Linked DNA regions of Homo sapiens. The protein of the gene in region 7 purifies or fractionates together with the protein of the main gene of each other region. This does not show direct contact. Each region holds a gene or a part of one and is shown on either strand. Other genes may lie near its edges.

The links.
Region 1: the proteins of AKAP10 (region 7) and TOR4A purify together in Homo sapiens (tandem affinity purification; one large-scale study listed by IntAct). This does not show direct contact.
Region 2: the proteins of AKAP10 (region 7) and DCTN4 fractionate together in Homo sapiens (co-fractionation; one large-scale study listed by BioGRID). This does not show direct contact.
Region 3: the proteins of AKAP10 (region 7) and UBAC2 purify together in Homo sapiens (tandem affinity purification; one large-scale study listed by IntAct). This does not show direct contact.
Region 4: the proteins of AKAP10 (region 7) and HNRNPUL1 purify together in Homo sapiens (tandem affinity purification; one large-scale study listed by IntAct). This does not show direct contact.
Region 5: the proteins of AKAP10 (region 7) and BTN3A1 fractionate together in Homo sapiens (co-fractionation; one large-scale study listed by BioGRID). This does not show direct contact.
Region 6: the proteins of AKAP10 (region 7) and BTAF1 purify together in Homo sapiens (tandem affinity purification; one large-scale study listed by IntAct). This does not show direct contact.

What each region holds. Positions count from the first base shown.
Region 1 is NC_000009.12:137,276,523-137,280,525, forward strand, and holds the start of TOR4A (torsin-4A), read left to right. Parts: upstream 1-1,203; 5' UTR 1,204-1,385; intron 1,386-2,130; 5' UTR 2,131-2,167; coding exon 2,168-3,439; 3' UTR 3,440-4,003.
Region 2 is NC_000005.10:150,752,518-150,756,017, forward strand, and holds part of DCTN4 (dynactin subunit 4), read right to left. Parts: intron 3,038-3,500; exon of another isoform or gene 3,014-3,037; intron 1,141-3,013; coding exon 962-1,140; intron 1-961. UniProt on the Homo sapiens protein: Part of the dynactin complex that activates the molecular motor dynein for ultra-processive transport along microtubules.
Region 3 is NC_000013.11:99,340,354-99,343,853, forward strand, and holds part of UBAC2 (ubiquitin-associated domain-containing protein 2 isoform 1 precursor), read left to right. Parts: coding exon 1-212; intron 213-3,500. UniProt on the Homo sapiens protein: Restricts trafficking of FAF2 from the endoplasmic reticulum to lipid droplets.
Region 4 is NC_000019.10:41,270,872-41,274,371, reverse strand, and holds part of HNRNPUL1 (heterogeneous nuclear ribonucleoprotein U-like protein 1), read right to left. Parts: intron 2,291-3,500; coding exon 2,137-2,290; intron 391-2,136; coding exon 317-390; intron 1-316.
Region 5 is NC_000006.12:26,401,010-26,405,074, reverse strand, and holds the start of BTN3A1 (butyrophilin subfamily 3 member A1 isoform a precursor), read right to left. Parts: upstream 2,801-4,065; 5' UTR 2,663-2,800; intron 941-2,662; exon of another isoform or gene 1-940. UniProt on the Homo sapiens protein: Plays a role in T-cell activation and in the adaptive immune response. Regulates the proliferation of activated T-cells. Regulates the release of cytokines and IFNG by activated T-cells.
Region 6 is NC_000010.11:91,989,770-91,993,269, reverse strand, and holds part of BTAF1 (TATA-binding protein-associated factor 172), read right to left. Parts: intron 1,152-3,500; coding exon 961-1,151; intron 1-960. UniProt on the Homo sapiens protein: Regulates transcription in association with TATA binding protein (TBP). Removes TBP from the TATA box in an ATP-dependent manner.
Region 7 is NC_000017.11:19,975,029-19,979,088, reverse strand, and holds the start of AKAP10 (A-kinase anchor protein 10, mitochondrial isoform 1 precursor), read left to right. Parts: upstream 1-1,260; 5' UTR 1,261-1,409; coding exon 1,410-1,497; intron 1,498-4,060. UniProt on the Homo sapiens protein: Differentially targeted protein that binds to type I and II regulatory subunits of protein kinase A and anchors them to the mitochondria or the plasma membrane.

The DNA.
Region 1 (4,003 bases), on a different chromosome or scaffold from region 7:
CCCAAAGGACCCCAACCTCCGTGCTGGGGCCACGGGGCCTGGACAGCCAACCTCCTTCCGCTCTGGTCCCACAGAGGCCGGGGAGTGGGCCCAAAGAGCACCAGCATTCCACCTGGTGTGTGCGGCCCCCGCGGCCTCGACAATTGGGGATCCGGGCCCCCGAGCACCCCTTGCACAGGGGAGGGGAGCCCTAGGCCTGGCTCCTGGAGGGGAGCGTGATAGTCCGGTGGACCCCATACCCTGGAGAGAATGGAAACCCCCAACCCACGACCGGTTTCCCTGATGGAGCCTGTCTGGTTGGGTGCAGTGTGTGAGGAATATACAGCTGGAACCATCAGGCCCGGGCTGGCTGTTGGGAGGAGTGGGGCGTCCCTGGGACTGCGGGGTCCTGAGCTGAATGCCAGCAGCACTGGTGTGGCTGGAGCGGCCACCTTGCCCCTCCTTGGAAGGCGGCTTCCAGGCTGGGCCAGGGTAGGAGGAGTCCAGGGTCCTTTAGGCAGGCCGGCAGGGGGAAGGGCCCAGAGCTCCAGCTCCTGGCTCCCGGCCCAAGTTGTTTCTAAATTTGTTCCCCAACCCCCACAGGGACCCTGAGCCGCACGTGGTTTTTTCCGTGATAGAACTTCCGTCTGTGTGTGCTGGCCTGTCCTGGGCAGGGGGCTCCAGGCTGGGGACGGAGGAAGGGGGAAAGGAAAGACAATGAGCCCACTTTGGGGGGCCCCCGATTGGGGTCAGGAGGGGAATGAAAAAGCGGGGAGAGGAGTAATAAGAGAGGGATTGGGGGTATGCAGCTCGGCAGAGGACCCTGCCCGCCCCCTGTGCTGCTGCCTTGCTCCCGCCTTGCTTACACAGGGCCTGGAGCCCCTCCCCCCAGCTGTAAGCCCTGTGTGTGGGGTGACAGGTGGAAGGGATAACCTGGGGGAGGTGGGGGCCCTGGAGGACAGGCTGAGGTGCAGGAGCCCAGGGTGGGGGCACAGCATGCAGCAGGGGCCCTCGGCCTCACCAGGTGTCCTGAGCCTGACCAAGCCAGGAGGGCTCTGAGCGCTAGAGAACTGAAGCGGGAATGTGACCTCCGGCCAGGGGATCTGGGCAAGCCGGCCAGGCCTCCCCCCTTTGGCGCCTCCGTCCAGCCCAAGTCCCGCCTGGGCCGCACCCCCTGACTCACTTCCTTTGCATAGAAGCGGAAACCTCCCCAGAGCTTCCTCTACTCCGGCCGGCCGCTCCCTGGGGACCCACAGGTGTCGCTGCCCCTCCAGGCCGAAGCTGGCCCAGGAGGCCCCTGGCCCACCCCCTCGCCCTGGGAGGCGCATTTCCTGCTTGGAGTCTCAGGCCCCAGCGTCTGGCACAGGCAGGGGCCTGCGGAGCTGAGGGCAGTGGACCAGCTGCAGGTAGGGGGTGGGTTGGGGCCCAGGGCCCAGTTCCTGCCAGTCAGTGGCTCTCTTGCTCCGACCGGCCTCTTCTTTCTGTCCATCTTTTCGTTTCACCTCCACTAGTCTCCGGGGGGCTCCCTGCACTGCTCAGCTCGTTCACTGGAGGGGTGTTGGGAGGACCCCAGTTTTGGAGTCGGGGCTGGGAGGCCTGGGTTGAGCCTGGGGACGGGGCCCGGGCCTATTCTCAAAATCATAAGTTCCAGCCAGACCCCCGCCAAGTGTTCTGGAGCGTGTGGGGGCGTCTCTGAACTCCTGGGCGCTCAGGCCTCTGCTTCCCGCGGCCCCTCCTTGGGAGACGGCCCAGTCCAGTGGGAGCCGCGGGCGGGGGCAGGGTCCGGGGGTGACTGTTCACCCCAGTGGGCGCCTGGGCGGCCACTGACTCCTTCGACGACTCCTCCAGGAAGCCGGGGCGGCCACCAGATAAGCCTCTACCCCGCCACTTCCTCAAGGCCCGCGGCCGTTTATGGGAAGACCCGAGAGATTTGCATCGGGGCCCTGCGGAGGGGCGGAGGGGCGGAGGGGCGGAGGGGTCGCTTGCCGGTCTGAGGGGCGAGGCCGCGACCAGGCCCCTGGCCCTGGGGCAGCCCGGGCCGCACCCCACGGGACTCCCAGGGGGTAAGATCACTCCGGGGACCGGTTCCGGCGGCCCGCGGGAAAGGGCAGTGGCGGGAGTCCAGAGACCCTCCCCGTCTTCCCGTTGCAGGGAGGGCGACCTGTATGCGGAGCGCCGTTCCTGCGACATGGACCGCGGCCAGCCCAGCCTGGAGCCTGCTGCCGCGGCCCCCCGAGCCTCGGGCCGGTGCGTGATCGCGCCCGTGCGCGCTGTGCTCCGCCTGCGCCGCCGGGTGTGTGTCCTACGCAAACGGCGCCTCCTGCAGCCGGGTGGGGGGCCCGACGTCGGGACCGGGGCGCCCAGGCCGGGCTGCAGCCCCCGGGCACCGCGCGCGGACCTGGACCAGCCAAAGTTCTTCACCTTCGACAGCCCCGCGGAGCTACCCTCCAGGACGCCACGCAAGAAGCGCCGGCGCAGCCGCCTGGTGCTTTACCCGGAGACCTCGCGCAAGTATCGGCCGCGCGTGGAGCACAGGAGCCGCGCGCAGCGCTGCCTTCTGCTGCTAGTCGCCATCGTGGGCTTCCAAGTTCTCAACGCTATCGAGAACCTGGACGATAACGCGCAGCGCTATGACCTCGACGGGCTGGAGAAAGCGCTGCAGCGCGCGGTGTTCGGCCAGCCCGCTGCCGTATCGCGCATCGTGGCGCTGATGCGGGACTACCTGGCCACGCATGTGCACAGTCGTCCGCTCCTCCTGGCGCTGCACGGGCCCAGTGGCGTGGGCAAGAGCCACGTGGGCCGCCTGCTGGCGCGCCACTTCCGCTCGGTGCTGGAGGACAGCGCGCTCGTGCTGCAATACCATGCGCGGCACCACTGCCCCGAGGCGCGCGCCGCACAGGACTGCCGCGAGGAGCTGGCGCGGCGCGTGGCCGACGTGGTGGCGCGGGCCGAAGCGGAGGAGAAGACCCCACTCTTGGTGCTGGACGACGTGGAGCTCATGCCGCGGCCGCTGCTGGACGAGCTGCACGGCTTCCTGCAGCCGCAGCGCTCCCACCACTTCCACAACGCCATCTACGTGCTCCTCAGTGGCGCGGGTGGCGCCGAGGTCACGCGCTTCGTGCTGCAGAACGCGTCCCGCGCGCTGCCCCTGCGCCCCGACGGCTTCCGCAGTGCCGAGGCCGCAGCGGCGCAGGCGGAAGAAGACCTGCGCGCCAGCCTGCTGGCTGTGCTGTCCCGGGAGCATCCGCTGTGGCAGGCCGCGGCCATCGTGCCGTTTCTGCTGCTGGACAAGCGGGATGTGGTCAGCTGCTTCCGGGACGAGATGGCGGGTGAGGGCTTCTTTCCTGACCAGGCCCGCGCGGAGAACCTGGCCGCGCAGCTCAGCTTCTACCGCGTGGCTGGCCGCGAGTTTGCCGTCACCGGCTGCAAGCAGGTGGTGGCCACGGTGAACCTCCTGTAGTGGAGGCGCAGGACGGGACGTTTGGGTTGATGGCGGCAGTAGGAGGGCGACCAGGGACCTTGTGGGCTGGTGCAGGCCCCTGAGGTTTCTAGTGAATTTGTGGCTGCCCGGCTGGTGGGTGCGGATCAGCTTGGAGCTCTGCTTCCAGGTCCACACCCGCCTCAGAGTCCGGAGTCTGTCCCTGGGGGCGGCAGGACAGCAGCCACCTCCCTCCCAAACTTGCCCATTGCCCTGCTGGGCGTCCCAGGCATGGTCTGGTGCGTTCTCCCTGTGGCCCCAAGAGGTGGGTTCCCATGGTACAAGGATGATCTCAGGGCCAACAATTCCCGGGGTCACACAGCTGGGACGTGACCCCGCCTCTTGGGGGTGGTCGCGTGTTGCTCAGTGCTGAAGTGGGGTTCTCATTCCGGCCCCCCTGGAGATGACCCCGGAGGAGGCCACAGCCAACCATGACAGTGCTGGGGCTCTGGCTGCCTTCTCCACCCACCCCACCCCTCACTCAGGTCGTGTTTTCAGGAGCTCAAGGCTGGAGTGTCTTGACAGTAAGGGGAGGGGAGCGGAGGC
Region 2 (3,500 bases), on a different chromosome or scaffold from region 7:
AATAAATGTTTTAAAATTGGTCTCCAAGATAGACTACCATAGTGTATGAGAGAACTATTCTCCTATGTTCTAGCCAACACTTGATACAACCAGATTAAACATGTTGTACCAAATAGAAGGAAGCTTTAATTTGCATTTACATGACTACTAGGGAAGTCGAATACATCTTTTTGCATATTCATTGACCATTTTTATTTCTACTATGAGAATTGCTGCTCATATCCTTTGCCTGTTTTTCTACTAAGTCTTTTTCTTATTGACTTATAAGCGTTCCTCATTTCTGAGTATTCATCTTTAGCCTGTTATATAAGACCCAACTATTTTTCTTAGTTTGTCATTTTTATCTTTAAAGATTTTTTTTTTTTTTGAGACAGAGTCTTGCTCTGTCACCCAGGCTGGAGTGCAGAGGCCCGATCTCGGCTCACCGCAAGCTCTGCCTCCCAGGTTCACGCCATTCTCCTGCCTCAGCCTCCCGAGTAGCTGGGACTACAGGTGCCCCCACCACGCCCAGCTAATTTTTGTATTTTTTAGTAGAGACGGGGTTTCACTGTGTTAGCCAGGATGGTCTCGATCTCCTGACCTTGTGATCTGCCCGCCTCAACCTCCCAAAGTGCTGGGATTACAGGCGTGAGCCACCGTGCCCGGCCTTATCTTTTAGTTTTATCCATGATGTCTTAACATGAATGTTTATTTTTCATGAAGAGCATTAATATTTTGATTCCAAGAAAGTACCAGATTTATAAAAGCTATTTTATCAAGTCTAAGAAAACTAAATATTATCCCATCTCAGATAAAACACTAAGGTCTACAAATGTGAACATATGGGAACACAGAAGAGTTAATGACAAAATATTCTGAATTTAGCTCCTATCGCCCCAACGGGTTACAGAAATAATAATCTATGGGCAATTATAGCACTGTCAATTGTACAAAATTTCATATTGAAGTCCATCTCACTCACCTACAGATTTGTCTGCCATGCCCACATCTCTAGACGTCCAGCGACAAAATCCACATGCCAGGTAATAGGCTTTCTTCATGGTGGTCTTGGCTGGGTCATCTGGAAGCTGTGTGGAGATGCTCGTGGCCCGAGTAGAGAGGGTGTGCATGCAGCCAGGACAGTCAAAACAATTGGCACATCTGTGACATGACAAACACAACCATTCATTCAACAAATATTTATCAAGGAATTCAAGAGAGAACAAATATAAGGACAAGTGTCTCTCAAGAAAAAACAGTAACATTCTGCAGGCCTCTTACCAACTTTGCTTTAACAGTTCAAGAGTACTATATGTTCATTAGTTTAAAAAATATGCAGTTATCGCCAAAGTAAGAATTAGAGCCCAACCCAATCCTACTCCACAGAGAGAACCATTGTTAACAGATGGAGTTTATGATTCCAGACTCTTTTTATGCTTATATTGATCACAAAGATTTCTGAGGAAGAGAACTGTCACAGCTTATGCCTTTAGAGAGGACAGACCAACTGTGCCATAGAAAACTTAGAGTCAACAATACAAGAAGCTGTGAAACTGGATTTGGAAAATAACCGACTGCTGTGCCAGAGAGCTTCAACAGAAAGCAAACAATGCTATCAAACTGGAATGGTTCAGAAGCAGCATATTTTCAGGGCTTTCTGTTCTCTCCTTAAATGCTACTTTTCCTAGTGCTCAGCCAACATTTCTCCTTTAGGAGGTCCCTATGTCTTCTTGCTTTTAACTCTCCCACCAGCACAGATTATCAAGATTTCACCTGCAGTCCTGTACCTGCTTGAAGTTCTGTTCTATAATATAACTTGCATTATCTGTTATAGTCTGCCATCTGGATACTATCAAAAGAAGATAATAATAGTACTCACCTTACAAGGAAGCTTTGAGGATTAAATGATAAAAATTAATTTGTGGAAAGTATACAAAACAGTATCTGGTTATCAGGGGTTACTTCTCAGGGCAGGAAAGACAAATAATAGTGGTTCACATCCATAAAGGTATGGGGGTATGACTAACAGCAAAAGGACTTTCACTTCAAGCTAAAAACTAAACACCATCCAGTAGCAATGAGCAAGCCTAGCAGCCATATCTTGGTTTCTAAGACTATTCTCCAATAAAGTGAACCAAGGCTCCTTGGAGAAACAACTCTAAGACTGAGACAGAAAATATACAAGATGAGGCTGGGCACAGCAGCTCACGCTTGTAATCCCAGCACTTTGGGCCAAGGCAGGTGAAGTGCTTGAGCCAGGAGTTCAAGACCAGCCTGGGCAACATGGCAAAAGCCTATCTCTCCAAAAAAATACAAAAATTATCCAGGTGTGGTAGCATGTGCCTAGTCTCAGCTACTCAGGAGGCTGAGGTGGAAGGACTGCTTGAGCCTGGGAGGTTGAGGTTGCAGTGAGCCAAGATTGCACCACTGCACTTCAACCTAGGCGCCAAAGTGAGACCCTGTCTCAAAAAAAAAAAAATACACACAAAACATACACACAAGATGAGTCTGGAGTATCTTGTAGTACTGGTAAGAAAATGATCAAAGTAATGAACAGAGAACTCTCTCCTGCTCCTAATGATGGGGGTATGTCAAAGGGATCTAGGAGTCAACTGAAAGAGCTCCCAATGGCCAAAGCTGAAATAATTTGAGCAAAATAAATAAAGTAGTATTGGATTACAAGCCAAAATATAAAATGAATATTCATAATCCCACTGTCCTATAAGTAAGTGATTTAAAAAACAAATAAACAAGAGGAGAAGAGACAGATCTTCCATGCAAAAGAATTCCAAATCCAAATAATTTATGCAGATAGTCCTCAAGGACAGGGGAGCATAATTCTCTAGTCTTTATGGGCTGTGACAGTAATTTTCCTTCCAAAAAGTAGAGTACAAAAAAAGAAGGAAAAGCAGTAACTTTACAGTGGAGAAACCTGACAAACACTAGCTCAAGCCAGATAATCAAGGTTAACACCAACAGTGACAAGTCATAAGTATTTACCCTTGATATGATGTAATCAAAGATGGCACTTTACCTCTGTGGTTCTCCTCCGCAAAATACATTCCCCTAGTCTGATGAGAAAAAAACATCATGCAAATCCTAATGAAATGACATTCTATAAAATACCTCACCAGTACTCCTCAATACTTTTGAGGTCATCAAAACCAAGGAAATTTTAAGATTCTCCTATCACACCACACCCAAGAGGAGTCTAGAGACATAACTATAAATATAATGTGATATCCTGAAAAGAATCCTGGAAAAAAAGGAGACCACAGAAAAACTAAGGAAATCTGAATAAAATGTAGTGTATTGGTTCATTAATTGTAACAAATATACCACACTAATGTAAAAAGTTAACAATAGGGGAGACTGGATGTGAGGTAAATGGGAACTCTCCATACTATCTTCACCATAATTCTGAAGTACAAAACTGTTCTAAAGTAGAAAATCTATTTCAAAAATCAAAGGGGATTTCATCTTTGGCAATGGTGATGCTTAAAAATGAAAAAGAGCTGGTT
Region 3 (3,500 bases), on a different chromosome or scaffold from region 7:
AGGTGCATCAGGTGCTCTGCATCCCCAGCTGGATGGCAAAATTCTTTTCTTGGACACTTGAACCCATCTTCTCTTCTTCAGAACCCACCAGCGAAGCCAGAATTGGGATGGGAGCCACGCTGGACATCCAGAGACAGCAGAGAATGGAGCTGCTGGACCGGCAGCTGATGTTCTCTCAGTTTGCACAAGGGAGGCGACAGAGACAGCAGCAGGTAAAAGTGATAATAATCACTAAAAATTTAGAAATTCTCAGTGGCCCAAGCAAATCTTTCCTCTGTGATTGCATGTGAGATAGAGACTACATTTTATTCCAGTGCCTTGCAAGTGGATTTTGACATTTCCAAAGAGATTGTAGGTCTCTGTTAGTGGCCATTCTTAGTTTTTTAAAAAGGTAAAAAATAAATTGCAGCTGAAAGATTGGTCAAACTGGACATTCTTGTTCCACCTATATTAGATAAGCATGACTTCTTAGAGAAACACCAACCTAGTTAACAAGATGTGCTATTTATCTGTTTTTATAATCTTGTAAAAGCCACAGTGTCTTCCTGTTAAAATGCTAATCATATGCTATGGAGTGAAGAACAAATGTAAAATTTCTTGATTTTCCTTGGTTGAAATGAAGAGAATATGAAGGCAAGAAGATTTTCAGTGGAACAACCAAGGAGTAGATAAAAAAAAATGCTGTGTTTTCTCAACCTTGCTATCAATAATCAGAAATTATTGCACATTTGTCTACAAATTCTGCATCCAAACAATCTGATACTACATTTGTCTTCCATGGGCAGTGAGAGAAGGAGGGTTAGTGCACATCAGGCTAAAACCTCAGGCCTGATCTTTCTTGGACACTTCTGTGAGCCAGCCCACAGGGCTCCCCATTTTTCGCCTCCACCTTCTTTACCCCTGGGGTAGTTGTAAACCGTACAGTTACCTCTGCCATCTCTCTGTCTTCCACTAGCATTGGATGCAAGAAGTAGGTCTGCAGATCTCACGATGGTTTGGAGAAGTGAAATCAGGTTTGAGGTCCTTAGAGTCCCATTGGAGATGCAGGTCCCAGAGTTTATATCAGGGGGGGGGAGGAAGGGGGCAGCTTATTAGGGGCAGAGTCTACAAGAGAAATAGAGAAGCAAAAGTTGTTTCTTAAAGATGTGCTTGAATTTGAGTGACTCTGGAACATGCCATAAAGATGCCCATGGTGTATTTAAAGCTGGAGGATGGACATCTCTGTCTTGGAAATGTGGAAGCTACATATATATATAGGTGATGGAGTCACCTCTGTAGGGATGAGAGCTGAGAGCCGAAAGCAAAGAAGTAGTAAGTTCTGTAAGAGAAGAGCTACATCCAAGATGAACACAGGCTACAGATGAAGCCTCGTATTTAGCAGGAGGTAAATCCTTCAAGGAAACTGAGAGAAGAGCGAAAGGTATGAGAAATCAGAATGATCAAGGTCAGAAAAACTGAGTAGTGATTGAGTATAAAGGTAGAGGCACAGAGCTTATGAGGGAGAGAAAGAAGTAGGGGATGGTTCTGATGTTTCTGGCCTAGATAATCTTAGATAGATGACTGATAGTTCCATTTCACCAATATCAAAAGAGCAGATTTGGGGGAAATATGTTGTCTGAGATACCTTTGGAATCCTGGGAGGAGATTCTCCATTGGAGAGCTTTGAATTTGTCCTCATAAGCAAACCAGAGAAGTTGCATTTCTCAGATTGGCCTCCCCAGGAAGATTTTTATACAAAGAGTTTATGAGAGAACACCGTCAGCATCAGTATCTATGGGGGCGGGCTGGCGAAGGCAGCAAGATGGGACAGAGGGAGCAGCTGCAGTTCCAGCAAAAGCCTCGCTGGTCTTATGGAGCACAGTGAAGCTGGGAGAGCCCTTCTGAGTTGTCCCAAAATGGGGACCAGTCCTGTTGGGTAAGTCCCATGCGTACGACCTCTTTGAACCTTAATTACCTCCTTAAAGTTCCTACCTTTAAATACAGTCACATCGTAGGGTTAGGGCTTCAGCGTGTGAATTTGGGGCAGGGGCAAGGGGTGGGAGACAGTGTGTTCCATAACACTGCAGAGTGGAAAGGGCCCAGCATAGTCTCGGCGCTGAGTGACTGTTCTGCTTGCAGACGGTAGTTATCAGGCACACACAGTCTCTGTGGATGCCAGGTTGGATGCTCCATAGTGGCAGGAGATAGGTCGGCCTAGGTGAGGGGGACCCACACATTCCTCTGTGCTACCACCATGGCCATCCATTCGTGTGCCAGCGCTGGGTTATCTGGTGATGGAGCCACAGTCATTCTGTCCACCTTCCATTTGGTGCCTTTTCTGTGGTGGATGCCCGTGGTGGGCACGACCTGCAAGACACTTGATGCTGTTCCTTTAGCTGGATCCTCCTTGTTCCCTCCCTTCCAGTCCCCTGACCGACCAACCAGGTGATCTGCCATGCCCAGCAGATCCACACGTGTAATTGCCTCAGGCCACTTCTCTTCACACAGAGTTGATGACCAAATGTGCTGCCCAGGCTCTGCCCATAGGGGGTTCCCCTGATCGCTGTCTTTCAAGATTGAGCCATCATGCAGCCGTTTCTTTCAGCTGCCACTCATGTCCTGAGCCAGCCTGTCCATTTGGCTGTTTTCCCCTCTGTCACTTGGTCATGAGGGGCCCACCAGCTGTGGTAGTCGGTGTTAGCTGGGAAGAGGCTGTGGTGCAGCAGAGGTGGCTGCCAGGGTGGTCTGGCATGCCTGCTTCTGCAGCTCACCCATGCCCTGCAGCCCCACCTATGCTGAGCCCAGATGCCCGTGTCCATCTGATGATGGGTTTCTGTCGGCCCACCTGGCTTGGTAACTTGGTGGGTCTCCACTGCTGACCACATGCTCACTTTGTGGCCTACAGACAGGCACTTCATGGTGCAGCAGCAGTTTATGCAAGTGGGATTCTTGGCTGTTTGCGCACGCCCTCGCTCCAGGATTCTACGGACCCCCATTGTGGTTCTCCTTTCCTGCCTTGCTGTAAACTCCGCACGGTGTCTTTCCCCCCAGATACTTGGAACATCACGGGATCTGCCAGGTTGTACCCAGGCCTCAGGGAATGAGACAGACCCAAACCCCTGCCCTGCTGGAGCGTGCATTCCCACCAGGCGCCTGTGAAGTGGCACAGGCCTTTATGGCTGTCTACACTGCTGTCAGACTCCTCCACTTTCATAGGATGGTCTCACTAACAGATCTGAAGTCCAGAGCAGGACACCAGCCCCTGGGCTCTTGCTGGGCTTTTACGTTGAGTGGTCTGCTGGGCAGCACAGACCAGACTCTTGATTTTTTCCTAAGCTTCCTAAGTTCTCTTCTAGGGTCCGCACATGGGTACACCCAAACCTGAGCACTTAGCCTCCTGCTGAACTTCTTCACTCAGCTGTGTCTCAGTTTTCTTCACATAAGTATGATAAATCACCACGTAGAGAACTCTTTTGTTAAACCACCACTGGAAATTATCTGCCGTATTTGTGTGCATGCAC
Region 4 (3,500 bases), on a different chromosome or scaffold from region 7:
TCAGGGTTTTCCAGATTGCTCCTATATCCACTGAGGAGTCTCCCTGAAAATCCTCTGAGGTTAGTACAGCAGATTTACTCCTTCCTGAAGGGAAGCTCAGAGAAGTAGAATGACTTGCCCAGGGTCCCACTGCTAGAGTTGGGAGTAGGTCTTTTGCCTCCAAACCAGTACTCTTGCTCCAGAGCTAAGCCGTGTCTCACATGTGGACTAACAATGTCTTTGGACGGTGCCCAGCAGGGATTCTGGTGAAGGTCAAGACCACAATTTCCCCATACTGACTGTAAGGCAGAATTAGATGCACACTCCAAAGACTTACAGGTGTCAATAGCAACAAGGGTATCATCAAAGTCATCTTCATCCTCTTCAGCAGGAGGCTGAGGAGAGCGGCCCCTGTATTAGAAACAGGGGTTAAGTCATACAAGAACAATGGATGAGCACAAAGGAAAGAAAATGAATGTTCTGCTGTAATCTATGAGTGGCCTCCAGACTGCTTCCTGAATCTCCATTTCCTTCCACAGAGGTGGGCAAAAGAACTCTGAAACCCTACATCCTTGCAAGGAGAGCAATGACCGTCAACTCCTACGGTGGAGACAGGGATTGAAGAAGGCATGCTCTGCTGAAGGGGGGCATCAGAATCATTTAGGGAATTTTTTCACTCTTTTTTTACACCCAAAGATTCTGATCCATACCCTCTGCATGTTGACAACCACTTCCACACTGATCTCTGTTACTGTTTGGAGGCTGTGGTATCCCAAAAGGGTGCTGGCCAGGAAGGGGAATGTGCAAGAGCCTATATAAATCCCAATAATTACTATCTATCCATGTACCAGGCTTCTTAAAATCCTACATCTGTAAGAATTTGAGATGACCCATTTTTTTCAGTGTCCTAAATTATAAACGATATTCATTTTCCTACCAAAACGCTAAAAAAGGGACTTAACACTGTTGGTTTCTGCTGTACAGGAACGAGGAAGAAGGGTAGAAAGGTAGAATCTAACACTCAGGGTCCTGCCTGGACAGTCTGGGTGGTCGCAGTGCACTGCATGCACAGATGGGGAGCCCATGCCCATTTGGCTGCTGACTCTCCCAGCAGCAGGCTTCCCTCTGGTGGAGGGCCCCTCTGGCCTCGCCAGGCCAGGGCTAACATGGATGAGCTGTGCTCATCACATGTTAAGTCCATTCTAGGAAACTTTCCCTGCCAGCCCAGGATCAGAGCGAGTGTTCTTCCTTTGCTCTCCATCAGTAAGTAGCTTCCAGGCTTCTGCTCTGTGGGAGGCAGTGGAAGAACCCCATATGAGGTGGGATCCATGTCCTAACTTAAATCATAGCCTGTGAGATCCAGGCCCTGTCTCAGACAGTAACAAGCTAGTTAGAAGGTGGACTCCGCCAGATAGGAAATAGAATGTCAGATGACTAGTCCAGATGAGTACAGTGGCCATTCCTAGTTTTCATAATTGCAAAAGGCTTCAGACAGGAACTGAAGGAAGGAAGGAGGGAAGGGAAGGACTTGGTCTGGAGGGAAAGGAGGGAAGGGCTTGTTAGGGAAGGGAAATGACCAAAGCAGAGGCTGCTCCCTCTTCTGAACTCCTGAAACTCACCTGCATCCTGACTACTCACCTCAGAGGTTGTGGCTTACTAGTGTATGTGTCTGAGTCCCCACACTGGAACAACAGAAGGCAAAACCCACTGTCCATCTGTATGTTGCTAGTGTCCAGCCCAAGAGTGGGCACTTCGTGACAGCACTGTGAGAACTGACTGAATGAGTGGATGAATGGGAAGAGGATGTGTATTTGGGAGTAGTGTTAGGAAACAGATATTTCTTTCATTACGGGTATCAAGCAGCTGACTGCAGGGGCAGTAAGGCAAAGGACAGAACAGGCAGGCTGGCATCTCACGCGTGAAAGTCTAAGATATTTAGAAGTTACCCTGCAGGTAAGAAGGGAGGAACTGGGGGAAGGACCAAAAGTTTAGGAAAGCTGAATCTGGTAGCAAGTACGGGAAGGGACAGGAAGAGTGTGAAAGCAGAGGGAATCTTTACTCAGCCCCTCTAGGTTAGTGCAAATGTCCCCAGCAAGCACGAGGCTATGGATATAGAAACCTACCAGAGCAAGGGTGACTGCTGCCTCATACACCCACCTCCTATCCTCTCGGTGCTCAAAGTACCCCCGTCCCCGGTTTTCTTCATAAGGCCTCTTTCGACTCTGGAATTGCTGCCTGTCTGGCTTGAGTTGAGAAGCTTCAGGCGGGAGGAAGCTGGTGGGTGCTCCTTGCTTCATCTCTGTCTTCATTTCTATTGTCAAGACAAATTCAGATGGTCAAGACACTCGCAAGCTCCCCAGCTATCACTTTTCTGGTCCCTTTTCCCTTGAGAGATGTGAGCAGGATCCTCACTACAGTGATGAAGGGCTGGGCACAGGCAGCTTGCTGAGTTCAACAGAAGCCTGCTGAGCCAGCCAAGAAGGCCATACTGGAGAACAGGGTTAGGATCTGAGATACCATGACCCTAAATTCTCCAATTTCTCTTCCCAAAGAACCTCTCTGCCTTAGTTCTTACAAAGCTTCTTCAGTCTGGCAAGGGAGGGGGAGAGGATGAATTCAACAGGGTACTGTGGTCCTGCAGCTAACTCTACGGGCTTTAGTTACCCTACCAAAAGAGGCCAGAATCACTCCGGTTAAGCCATCCCATAGGTGCAATAACCTCTTTAAGTCATACCATTAACAGAAAGTCAGGATGGGATACCGTGCTGTGGACCACGGGTAAGTCCTAGTCTCAGGCAGACTCCAGGAATCAGTGCCTAACCAAGAGCAAACCACAGATGTAGGCTACCTTCATTTCTCCCACAGCATTAATCCCTGATGCTGAAGCTCATTCACATCTACTCATTTCTGCATTCAACCCCAGACCATTTTGGATCACTCCCCAGCTTCGGCATGTGGACCACATCTCTCAGAAAAGTCTCCTGGTTCTCTAGGGCTGGGATGGTGCTCAGCCATCCTGAAGAGAGCTTCCCTGGTTCCCAGCAATAGGTTGGGCTCACACAGGGCTCCTGATGAATGTCTGTGGATAACGGCACAGAAAATATTCTCCTGTGGCTGAATGATCCTACAAGTCTCACAGAGCCTGACACAAATCTGCGGTTTAACCTACATTCAGTAAAGTTCTGAGCCACCCACAAGAAATGTCTGGGGATTTAACTTTGTGGATGAACCAGAATGGCGTTAGACAAAATCAACCAGATACACTAAGAAAAGGCACTGGGAGGCCACAACACAGTAAAAGCAGCACAAAACTGGGGGTCAGTCCGGGCTCCATCAGTTCTCAATAGTGGGACCCTGCTTTCCAAATAGTAAGGCACAAATGATAAGGAATGCTGCTTATTAACCAAGAGGACTAGCCTGGGAGCAAGTATGCTAGGTTGTAGCCCCAGCTCTGCCATCGGACAAGCCAACTCCTCAATCTATAAAATGGGGAGGAGAGGCCAGGCGCAGTGGCTTACACC
Region 5 (4,065 bases), on a different chromosome or scaffold from region 7:
GTGGGGGACCTGAAGTCAGTCAGGGGCTGAACCCACCACATTTAATCCAAGGCTAGTGATCACAGAGCTGCAAATAAGACCAGGCCTTACTTACCTTTTCTTTCTTCCCTTCATAAAGTCATTCAACAAATATTTACCAAGCACCCACAAGGGGCCAGGCCCATGATATAAGGGTTAGGGACACAAAGAGGGTAAGCAATAAGTAAAGGCTCTAAGATTCACAAGCTCTTTGGTCTCAGACATGGGACAAAACCATTGCAACTTTATTTACTTATACAATATCATGAAGTGTGAAATTTAGAATTGCACAGTTGGCCCAGCAGTTCCACTTCCTGATGTCAAGTCGAGCAAAGTACTTGCATGGGTGCAGACAGAAGCCTCTGTGAGAATGACACTGCAGCACTATTTTTAAAGTATAAAAATGGTAACCAACTGAACCAGCCACCCATCAGGAGACTGCTTAGAGGAATGACGGCTCATCCCTCGGAGGGAATTCAATGCAGCAGGTAAAAAGAGTTGATTTGTTGTCATGAACCTAGATAACGGAGACACACTAAGTGATCAAAAAACACCTTGCACAACTATACTAAAGATTCAATTGAAGAACAGAAGCAAAGCTATCCATTTCTGCATAACTATTTATGTAAATGCCTGAAAAACTCAAAAAAGACGCATGCTAATCTGAAGATCAGAGGTTAGTGAGTGAAGGGACACTTGGCCTTTTGTTCCCTTTACTTTTAAAATATTGGAATGCTTTAAATTTAAAACTTTTCGTGTATTACTTAACAATAATTATTATGAGTTACAATAGTGACGGGAACATATTAGCTGCTCAGTAAATACTAACTCCTCAACAGTTTCTTCCAAAACAAAGGAGCATGAGGCCTGCAGCCATAATCCCTCTTGCTGTGGGTCTGGGAATGGCCTCTGAGAACAAGATCTGCAGAGGGAGGTGGGGAGGGATGTAAAGGAAACAAGAGAACAGAGATCTGTGCAGCCGGCCATGCTTCACCCCTGCCTGGATCTTGCACCCACCCAGAGTAAACAATGCATTTCACCACATCTTTTGCTCCTCGAAACTGCTCTTTATGTTGCTATAGAGGGGGTATCATTTTTATTATCATTTTCCCTGAGTTAACAATTTCTCTGCTGTCCTTAGAATGAGACATAAGTTTTTCTTCTTCATAAAGGATATATTTTTTTTCCTGATTATAGTCAATATTGCAAATGAAAAAAAGCATAAAGGAATACAAGTTTAAGTAGTGGTTCATGCCTGTAATCCTTGCAATTTGGGAAGTTGAGATGGGAGGATCCCTGGAGCCCAGGAATTCAAGACCAGCCTGGTCAACATAATGAAACCCCATCTCTACAAATCAATCAATAAATAAAATAAAATATCTATAGTAGTAGTCATATACTTTGGTAGTGAAAAGGTAAATATTTCTGGAAGTATTTTGACCATATATATATAAAGGGCCTTAAAAAAAGTTATATGCTTTGCTAAGGAATGGCTATTAAAAGAAAAAAAAAAGGTGTGTGCTTTGACCCAAATGTTCCACTTGTAGGAATTAGTGTTGCAGAAAAAAGAAAATCAGGAACTAAGACAAAAATTTATGTTTTAGGCTGCTCAATACAGTAAAATCTACAATAGCCAAATGCAGAAAAGAGAAATAGTCCAAACTAGGGAAGTGTTTAAAAATAATTTTAAAGGCTGGGTGTGGTGGCTCACGCCTGTAATCCCAGCTCTTTGGGAGGCTGAGGTGGGCAGATCACCTGAGGTCAGGAGTTTGAGACCAGCCTAGACAATATGGCGAAACTCCGAATCTACTAAAAATACAAAAACTAGCTGGGTGTGGTGGCGTGCACCTGTAATCTCAGCTACCCAGGAGACTGAGGCAGGAGAATCACTGGAACCCAGGAAGCAGAGGCTGCAGTAAGCCGAGAACATGCCACTGCACTCCAGCCTGGGTGATAGAGCAAGACTGCATCTCAAAACAAACAAAAAAATTGTATATTCATACAATGAAATAGATTGTATCCATTGGATAGCATTCGTTAGGTTTGGGGGAAATGATGAATAAAAGGAAAAACACATACTGTTCCTAAAAGATTTTAAAACAAGGTTTAATGTATGGATCTAACATTGCTAAAATTATAAATAATTGCCCTTCATTAAAAACACGATTCCTAAAGGCTGCATGGAAATCTCTTTTATGATTGAACCATGCATTGTTTGTCTATCCCCCGCCTGTTGTATATGTATGCTGGTTCAGGTTTTTCTACATTTTTAATACTTCTGTAATGAACAAATTTACATATGAATCTATAAAGGACACCTCTTTTTAGAATCTCTTAGAATAGATGCCTTGAGTTGTCCAGAACAGATTTTAAAGATTGTTTGCCCTTTTCTGACTACAATACGTTCTTAAGAACATGCAATTAGACTATTTCTTCACCAAATCCCAAACTCTGCAGGTCTTTATTCTTTGCACTACTTCTCCCCTTTCCATGTGTCCACATGTGTGCGTGCGCACCCCCTCAGGCACACACCCCTTTCTCTGGGTGAGTACTCTCCCTGCATGCCCACTCACCACTCTCAGCGATTCAGCCCCTGTCCTCCCAGGCATTGTGAACCAGGCTCTAATCGACTTCCCCCACTCACCTCTTAGCATTCCCCTCTGAAAATCACAGCCCACAGAAGAAAGGCAGTTAATAGTTCTCCATTCTTTCTACTATGGTTAAATCTCCTTCTGGAAGAAAGGAAAAAGAAAGCAGAGACTGTCGGGTCATCGTGAGGAATAATAACAATCTCTCTTTGGAAGAATAAGTTTTTTGATTGGCTCAGAGGTGATGTTTCTCATCAGTTGCTGGGCAGAAACCACTGAGGAAGGCTGAAATGAAAACTGAAAGTACATTGAATTGTACACGTTGAAGAAAAATTCCTGCCCTACCTCCCTTACTGTTTATCTCTTTCATTCTTGTGTGTATATACGTATTTCTATATAGTCACTTGTCTTAAGTCTTTTATCATAATAGAAATATCAGCAGAACACAATGGGAAAAGATTTTAATGTGGTGAAGAGAGAAAGATGAGCACTAATTAAAATGCTACTGTGGCAGTTTGCTAACATTTGCTTGCATGAATATGGGTACATGGAGGAGGAGGAGATTTTACTACAGAGTCAAATAAACGTATGAATGGAAAGAAAACCAGACACAATGCACTTTTTTTTTGAAACGGAGTTTCACTCTGTCACCCAGGTTGGAGTGCAGTTGCAGGATCTTGGCTCACTGCAACCTTCGCCTCCCAGGTTCAAGTGATTTTCCTGCCTCAGCTCCTGAATAACTGGGATTACAGGTGCTCGCCCCATGCCCGGCTACTTTTTGTATTTTTAGTAGAGACAGGGTTTTGCCATATTGGCCAGGCTGGTCTCAAACTCCTGAGCTCAAGTGATCCTCCCTCCTCAGATCCCAAAGTGCTAGGATTACAGGCTTAAGCCACTGCACCCGGCCCACAATGCACATTTTTAAGCACCTCCAGCATCCAGGCTTAGGATCTGTTATCAAAAAATGTAATTTTTCTGGCTTCCAGAGGCAGTGCTGCTTGACACGTTTTACCTTTTTCAGCAAATTTTTAGTGCAGGTGTTTCTGAGCATCTCCATTCACCCTCAGCTCCTGTTCTGTGCTACACTGTATTTTCCTGTGTATTTGTTTCTCCTGCTGCCAGTGGAGTACATATTCTCTGAGGCCAGACTCTAGATAAACTGTGAATGCTGTCTCTGTAAGATGTCTATAAAACAAATTGGTTCTTCCTGTGGCCTAGGACCTCAAAACAGACTTTCTGGGATTGCAAGTCAATGATCGAAGTTCCTAAGGCTAAGATGTGACTGGGGCTGATGCAATTTAATTATATTGTAAATGTTTGAATTTAGACTGTGTAGTATCTGATTGAGATGGCTGGTCCCTTCTGCATCATGCATTCCCCCTTTCTTCTTGGTGATAAGGCCTAATTTTCTTAGGTACTACAACGTTCTTTTCCATCTGGTAGATAGCAGAGACCAAGG
Region 6 (3,500 bases), on a different chromosome or scaffold from region 7:
TAATTCTTATTCAGCAGTAATTACGGTCCATAAATCTGTCCCCCCAAAAAGATATTTATATTTTTAAAATTATGTTTAATTGGAGGAATAACTATGCAAACTAGAGATATAAATATCAAAATCACAGTAAAATTTTTATTACAATTATTATAGGGAAATATTGTCAATGAAAAAGACTTTACAGAATGTTTTAAGGGAAATATAGATAAGCTGTTGATTTTAAAAAGAAACTTAAAAGGGGTTTATATTTTACAGAAACATGTCTTTTAGTATTGATGGTTTACTGCTGAACTGAGGTACATTCCTATGCCTTGCATTCCAAAGAACTAACTAGAGCATTCATTCTATTGCTAATAATGTGACTGTCAGATTTTCAAAACAAAACACTTTTTAAAAACCACTGCTTGTTAAGACTGTACGGTGTAACAGGTGGACCAATGGGAGATAATGGAAAGCCTGAATAGACCCTCACACATATGAAGCCATTAACAGAGGTGCCATTATAAATCAGAGAGGAAAGGATTCAATAGTGGGATAACTGGCTGTTCATATGAAAAATAAATTTAGAACCCTACCTCACACTAAGCATTTAATAAATATCAAATTGACTAAAAAAGTCAGGTGGGTTGCAATTATATGACATTTGTGCATTGAAAGGACAGAGAAAAGTTAGCTTTCACTATTATTGAGCACCTTCTCTACAGTCACTGCTATAGGACTGAATTAGTTTACAAGGCTGTCTTGCCTAGGAAGATAAAGTTAAGCTGGTAAAAATTACAAGAGACATGAGATATTTGAAGTTTGCCGTTTTTCTGGATCATATTGTTGGAGTACTCCAAAAATTAATCCCATTTCTTTACTTAAAAACAACTCTGGAAGCTAATACAACTTAGTTCTCAATTTGTAAGTCAGATATTTGTTTAAAAATCAAAGCATTAAAAAAAAAAAAAAACTACTTACCTCATCAAGTTCAACAAGAATATTTCCACTACTTCCTGCAGGAAGATCTGCTATTTGAGCTTTTACTGCTTTGGGGGTAGGACCTCGCCTACTTGTGATAGCAAAGGCAGCTTTCTGGTGCCTGTAGAGTGTAATTATACCTCTGTGCTTGGTGACAGTATGGTGCATTCCATCTTTTTCTGAGGTGGATCCTAATAAGAAAAAAGTTAAACAACCTTTTAATCATAATATTGGTGATACCAAATGTTTTCAGCTCCATAAGAGATAAAACATTTTTAAACTATGTCTTTTAGGCCTCAACTTTTATAGGCCAATGACATTTTCCTTAGACAATGAAATGGCAATAAAATAGTCTATTTGCATAGGATTTATACCTAATACAATCCAGGTTGCAGAGCCATCTGAACAATGAGAAACAGCACATGAAAAAATTATTGTGACTTCAGTTAATGTGTTTGTGTGTGTATATATGTGTGTATATATATATATATATATATATATATATATATATACACACACACACACACACACACATATATATAATTTTTTTTTTCTGAGACAGGGTCTTTCTCTGTTGCCCAGGCTGGAGTGCAGTACCACCGTCTCAGCTCACTGCAACCTCCACCTCCTGGGCTCAAGAGATCCAATCCTCCCACCTCAGCCTCCTGAGGAGTTAGGACTACAGGCACACACCACCACACCCAGCTAATTTTATATTTTTTGAAGAGATAGGGTTTCACCATGTTGCCCAGGCTGGTCTCAAACTCCTGAGCTCATTCCATCTGCCCGCCTCGGCCTCCCAAAATGCTGGGATTATAGGCATGAGCCACCATGCCCAGCCTATTAATTTTTTGTTGTTATTTTTGAGATGGAGTCTCACTCTGCCACCTAGGCTGGGGTGCAGTGGTGCAATCTTGGCTTACTGCAACCTCCACTTCCCAGGTTCAAGGGGACTCTCATGCCTCAGCCTCCTGAGTAGCTAGGATTACAGACGCACGCCACCACGTCCGGATAATTTATATATATATATATATATATTTATATTTATATTTATATATTTTTTTGAGACGGAGTCTCGCCCTGTCGCCCAGGCTGGAGTGCAGCAGTGCGATCTCGGCTCACTGCAAGCTCAGCCTCCCAGGTTCACGCCAGTCTCCTGCCTCAGCCTCCTGAGTAGCTGGGACTACAGGTGCCTGCCACCATGCCCGGCTGATTTTTTGTATTTTTAGTACAGACGGGGTTTCACCATGCTAGTCAGGATGGTCTCGAACTTCTGACCTCGTGATCCACCCGCCTCGGCCTCCCAAAGTGCTGGGATTACAGGCGTGAGCCACTGCACCCAGCCTAATTTTTATATATTTTTTTAGTAGAGATGGGGTTTCACCATGTTGACCAGCCTGGTCTTGAACTCCTGGCCTCAAGTTATCTGCTCACCTCGACCTCCTAAAGTGCTGGGATTACAGGCATGAGCCACTGCCTGGTCCCTGGCCTATTAATTAATTAATTATTATTTTTTGAGACGGAGTTTCACTCTTGTTGCCCAGGCTGGAATACAATGGCGCGATCTCAGCTCACCGCAACCTCCGCCTCCCAGGTTGAGGCCATTCTCTTGCCTCAGCCTCCCGAGTAGCTGGGATACAGGCATGCACCACCATGCCCAGCTAATTATATATTTTTAGTTGAGATGGGATTTCTCCATTTTGGTCAGGCTGGTCTTGAACTCCCGACCTCAGGTGATCCGCCTGCCTCGGCCTCCCAAAGTGCTGGGATTACAGGCGTGAGCCGCCGTGCCTGGCCTGGCCTATTACTTTTTAAAAAATTATTGTGCCTAAGCATAACGAGAAATATTAAAAAATATCTCAAGCAAGTTCTCTTTAAAAGCAGAGTCACCATGAATTAAAAAAAAAAAATTGGTCACTGCAAAATGATGCTGCCTTATATAGCAATGGACCAGGGGGGTAAGAGGGGGGAGAATGACCCCAATGTATTTTTAAGATGTTAATATTCAAAATGTCCACCTTTCTTCTTCTAGTTCATAAACATATTTTTCAAGATCTATGCTGCACCAAAGCTGTAAGTCTACTACATTTCAAATAATTTGTTTTCCCAAAATCTTGTTAACAATCACACATACAAAAAGCACATAGGACTGAGTCATATGAATAAAACACTGGTCTTTAAGACCTGCCTACAGAGGGCAGTTCTCATTTTCCATACAAATTCTCCAAGTGAAAACAAAAAAGTTGGTTAAGTATTATTTACTAAAAGTACTAAAAGTTCACTAATCTCATAAAACATGCACTAAATTAGGGAAACGAGAGATTTTATAATGACTTTTTCAGTCAATAGGGTTGCTCCTTTGGTTAAGGAAAAAAAATTCATTAAATAACATTTGATACAATTACCTTTTCTAGCTTGATACAGTAAACCATATAATGATGGTTTTGAAGGCAAAGGTAAGGGTGAACACCTGTCTTACAGATTTCAGTCACCTTATATCAGCTATCAGATCTTCCATGAATGGCTTTTTTGAACTTACA
Region 7 (4,060 bases):
CGTTCTTCCTTGCACTTACCTATTTAGAAAGTTTTAGGCTATTAGCAAATCGGCTATCAGTTTAAGAGTGTGAGGTCCCGCTCCAGCCAATGGATGCAGGACATAGCAGTGAGGACGACCCAAATGCGTAAGGGATAAATATGTTTGCTTTTCCTTTGTTCAGGTGTGCTCTCGACATCGTTCCATCTGCGATTGAGCACCCTTTCTGCAGAAAGTAAAGATTGCCTTGCTGGAGATCTTTTGTCTCCGTGCTGACTTTTCTTCGTGGCACCGATTATCTATTTCTAACAATTTTGGTATTTCTAACATTCTGAACAATCTTGGGCTAGTTGTCTCTTCTGGGCCTGTTTCCCCATCCGTCACATGATAAACTTCATTGGTTTAAAAACCCCAGCGAACATTTATTGAGTTACTATTACCTTCCTGCCCTCCCCAACCCCAACCCCAGGGAGCAGTTACAACCTCAGCCGCTGAGCGCACTCGCCGGGTGTTAAGAAGCACCAAAGACAGGGAGGCTTGATTGATTTTGCTTTGGGAGTAGAGGGTCAGAAGATTCACAGGAAAATGGCATTTGAGCAAGGATGATTCACTGGAGCTAGCTTTTAAATACTGGCGAGGCTTTTATGTTGCAGTCCCTTACAAAGTTGAGCATTCGCAGGGACTGCACTCCGAAATAAGCCCGCTTCCCCTTTTCATTCGCTAATGATCCAGGGAGCTGCTGGTTCCGCATGCGGCAGGTTGTGCCTTTTCCTAATCAGGGTTCTGCATCGCCTCGAACCCGCAGGCCGTGGCGGGTTCTCCTGAGGAAGCAGGGACTGGGGTGCAGGGTGAAGCTGCTCGTGCCGGCCAGCGCCTGTGAGCAAAACTCAAACGGAGGAGCAGGAGGGGTCGAGCTGGAGCGTGGCAGGGTTGACCCTGCCTTTTAGAAGGGCACAATTTGAAGGGTACCCAGGGGCCGGAAGCCGGGGACCTAAGGCCCGCCCCGTTCCAGCTGCTGGGAGGGCTCCCGCCCCAGGGAGTTAGTTTTGCAGAGACTGGGTCTGCAGCGCTCCACCGGGGGCCGGCGACAGACGCCACAAAACAGCTGCAGGAACGGTGGCTCGCTCCAGGCACCCAGGGCCCGGGAAAGAGGCGCGGGTAGCACGCGCGGGTCACGTGGGCGATGCGGGCGTGCGCCCCTGCACCCGCGGGAGGGGGATGGGGAAAAGGGGCGGGGCCGGCGCTTGACCTCCCGTGAAGCCTAGCGCGGGGAAGGACCGGAACTCCGGGCGGGCGGCTTGTTGATAATATGGCGGCTGGAGCTGCCTGGGCATCCCGAGGAGGCGGTGGGGCCCACTCCCGGAAGAAGGGTCCCTTTTCGCGCTAGTGCAGCGGCCCCTCTGGACCCGGAAGTCCGGGCCGGTTGCTGAATGAGGGGAGCCGGGCCCTCCCCGCGCCAGTCCCCCCGCACCCTCCGTCCCGACCCGGGCCCCGCCATGTCCTTCTTCCGGCGGAAAGGTAGCTGAGGGGGCGCCGGCGGGGAGTCAGGCCGGGCCTCAGGGGCGGCGGTGGGGCAGGTGGGCCTGCGAGGGCTTTCCCCAAGGCGGCAGCAAGGCCTTCAGCGAGCCTCGACCTCGGCGCAGATGCCCCCTGAGTGCCTTGCTCTGCTCCGGGACTCTTCTGGGAGGGAGAAGGTGGCCTTCTTGCGCGAGGTCAGAGGAGTATTGTCGCGCTGGTTCAGAAGCGATTGCTAAAGCCCATAGAAGTTCCTGCCTGTTTGGTTAAGAACAGTTCTTAGGTGGGGGTTAGTTTTTTTGTGTTTCTTTGAGGACCGTGGATCAAGATCAAGGAAATCTCTTTAGAACCTTATTATGGAAGTCTGAAGTTTCCAAATGTTGAGGGTTTTATGTCTAAAAGCAACACGTGAAAAAATTGTTTTCTTCACCCAGTGCTGTCTTCCAATTTCCTCTTTGGGGGGAGGGGTAGTTACTGCTGTTACTAAAATAAAATTACTTATTGCTAAAGTTCCCCAACAGGAAGACCACTACTTTTGATGACTTTGGCAAGTTTGCTAACTACTGGAACCCTAACTTACAAACGAACTACTTACATTTTTGATTTCCAGTTGTATTACCTGCCCAATGTTTACGTAGAAACAGCTTAATTTTGATTCTGGGTAACGTTGTTGCACTTCATTAAAAATACATATCCGAAGTGAGCAAGTATGGGTCTGTGGACAGCAGTGATTTTTCCTGTCAATTCCTGTTGCTTCAGATAAAATGTACCAGACAGAGGCCGGGCGCGGTGGCTCACGCCTGTAATCCCAGCACTTTGGGAGGCTTGGCGGGTGGATCACCTGAGATCGGGAGTTCAAGACCAGCCTGACCAACATGGAGAAACCCCGTGTCTACTAAAAATACAAAATTAGCCAGGGTGGTGGCGCATGCCTGTAATGCCAGCTACTTGGGAGGCTGAAGCAGGAGAATCGCTTGAACCTGGGAGGCGGAGGTTGCGGTGAGCCGAGATAGCACCATTGCACTCCAGCCTGGGCAAAAAGAGCGAAACTCCGTCTCAAAAAAAAAGTACCAGACAGAAATGGGTTTTGTTTTCTTTTTTTGTTTTGAGACGGAGTTTCGCTCTTGTTGCCCAGGCTCGAGTGCAATGGCGCGATCTCAGTCTCGGCTCACTGCAACCTCTGTCTCCCAGGTTTAATCGATTCTCCTGCCTCAGCCTCCCAAGTAGCTGGGATTACCCATGCCCCACCATGCCCGGCTAATTTTTGTATTTTTAGTAGAAACGGGGCTTCACCATGTTAGGCTGGTCTTGAACCCCTGACCTCAAGTGGGCCTCCCACCTCGGCCTCCCAAAGTGCCAGGATTACAGGCATGAGCCACCGCGGCCAGCCAGAAATGGGTTTTGGAAAAAGCACTAAACAAAATCGAACTTGGTTTCATATGACAGCTCTGCTGCTAACTGTAACAGGGGCAGACCAGTTAACCTACTTTTCTGTCTTCTGTCAGCTGAGAATTAGATGATTCCCAAAGGCCCATTGAACTCTGAATGACTTTAAATACTTCTTCTTAAGTGGGTACACGGTTTTGGTAACTGATGCCAGGTGATGAATGCATGAAAGTGCTTAATGAATGAAACCGGTAAAATAGTAGGAGGAAGCTTTATTGGTAAGGCAGGGGTATACCTAATAGCTCTCTAATTTATTGGTATTGAAGTGGTTAACTTTTGTTTTTTTAAGGGGGGAAAACATTCTAAGAATAATGAGGCAAACTGCATATTGCACAAGAGACTGTTGTCTCTATTCAACAAATACCTTTTGAGTGTCCAGAGTCTGCCAGGTGCTGTGCTAGGCCCTCACGATTGAGTAGTGAACCAGAGAATGTCCCTGCACCCATGGAGCTTATTGTCTACTGGGGTAGACAGATAATAAATAAGCAAACAAATCTTCTCTCTTCTCCCTTTCGCTCCATGTAAGTGTGTGTGTATAGGTGTATACTTACAAGTTGAGTAAAGTGTTATGAAAGATTAAGAGGAGAAATGCATTTTGGTTAGATGTTAGAGGACTCAGCAGGTGACCTTGAAACTTAGAGCTGAAGGATCAGTAGGAGGTAACTAGAGAGGCCAGGGAATCGCATGTTCAAAGGCCAGGAGGCAAGAAAGAGCATGGTGCCCTTCAAGAGAGGAAAGAAGGCTACTGTGACTGGAGCATAGATGTAGGCAAGTGTTGGGTGATTGAGAGCTCTACGGGCCATGGTTAGGTTTTATTCCTAATGCCGAGATGCCAAACATGGTGGTTCATATCTGTAATCCCAGTATTTTAGGAGGCCGAGGCAGGAATATAGCTTGAACCCAGGAGTTCAAGACCAGCCTGAGCAACATGAGACCTGTACAAAACATTTAAAAAATTGCTGGGTATGATGGTGCACACCTGTGGTCCCAGCTACTCAGGAGGCTGAGGCAGAAGGATCACTTGAGCCTAGGAGGTGGAGGCTACAATGAGCCATATTTGAGTCACTACACTCCAGCCTGGATGACAAAGTGAGACCATGTGTCAAACAAAATACAGAAA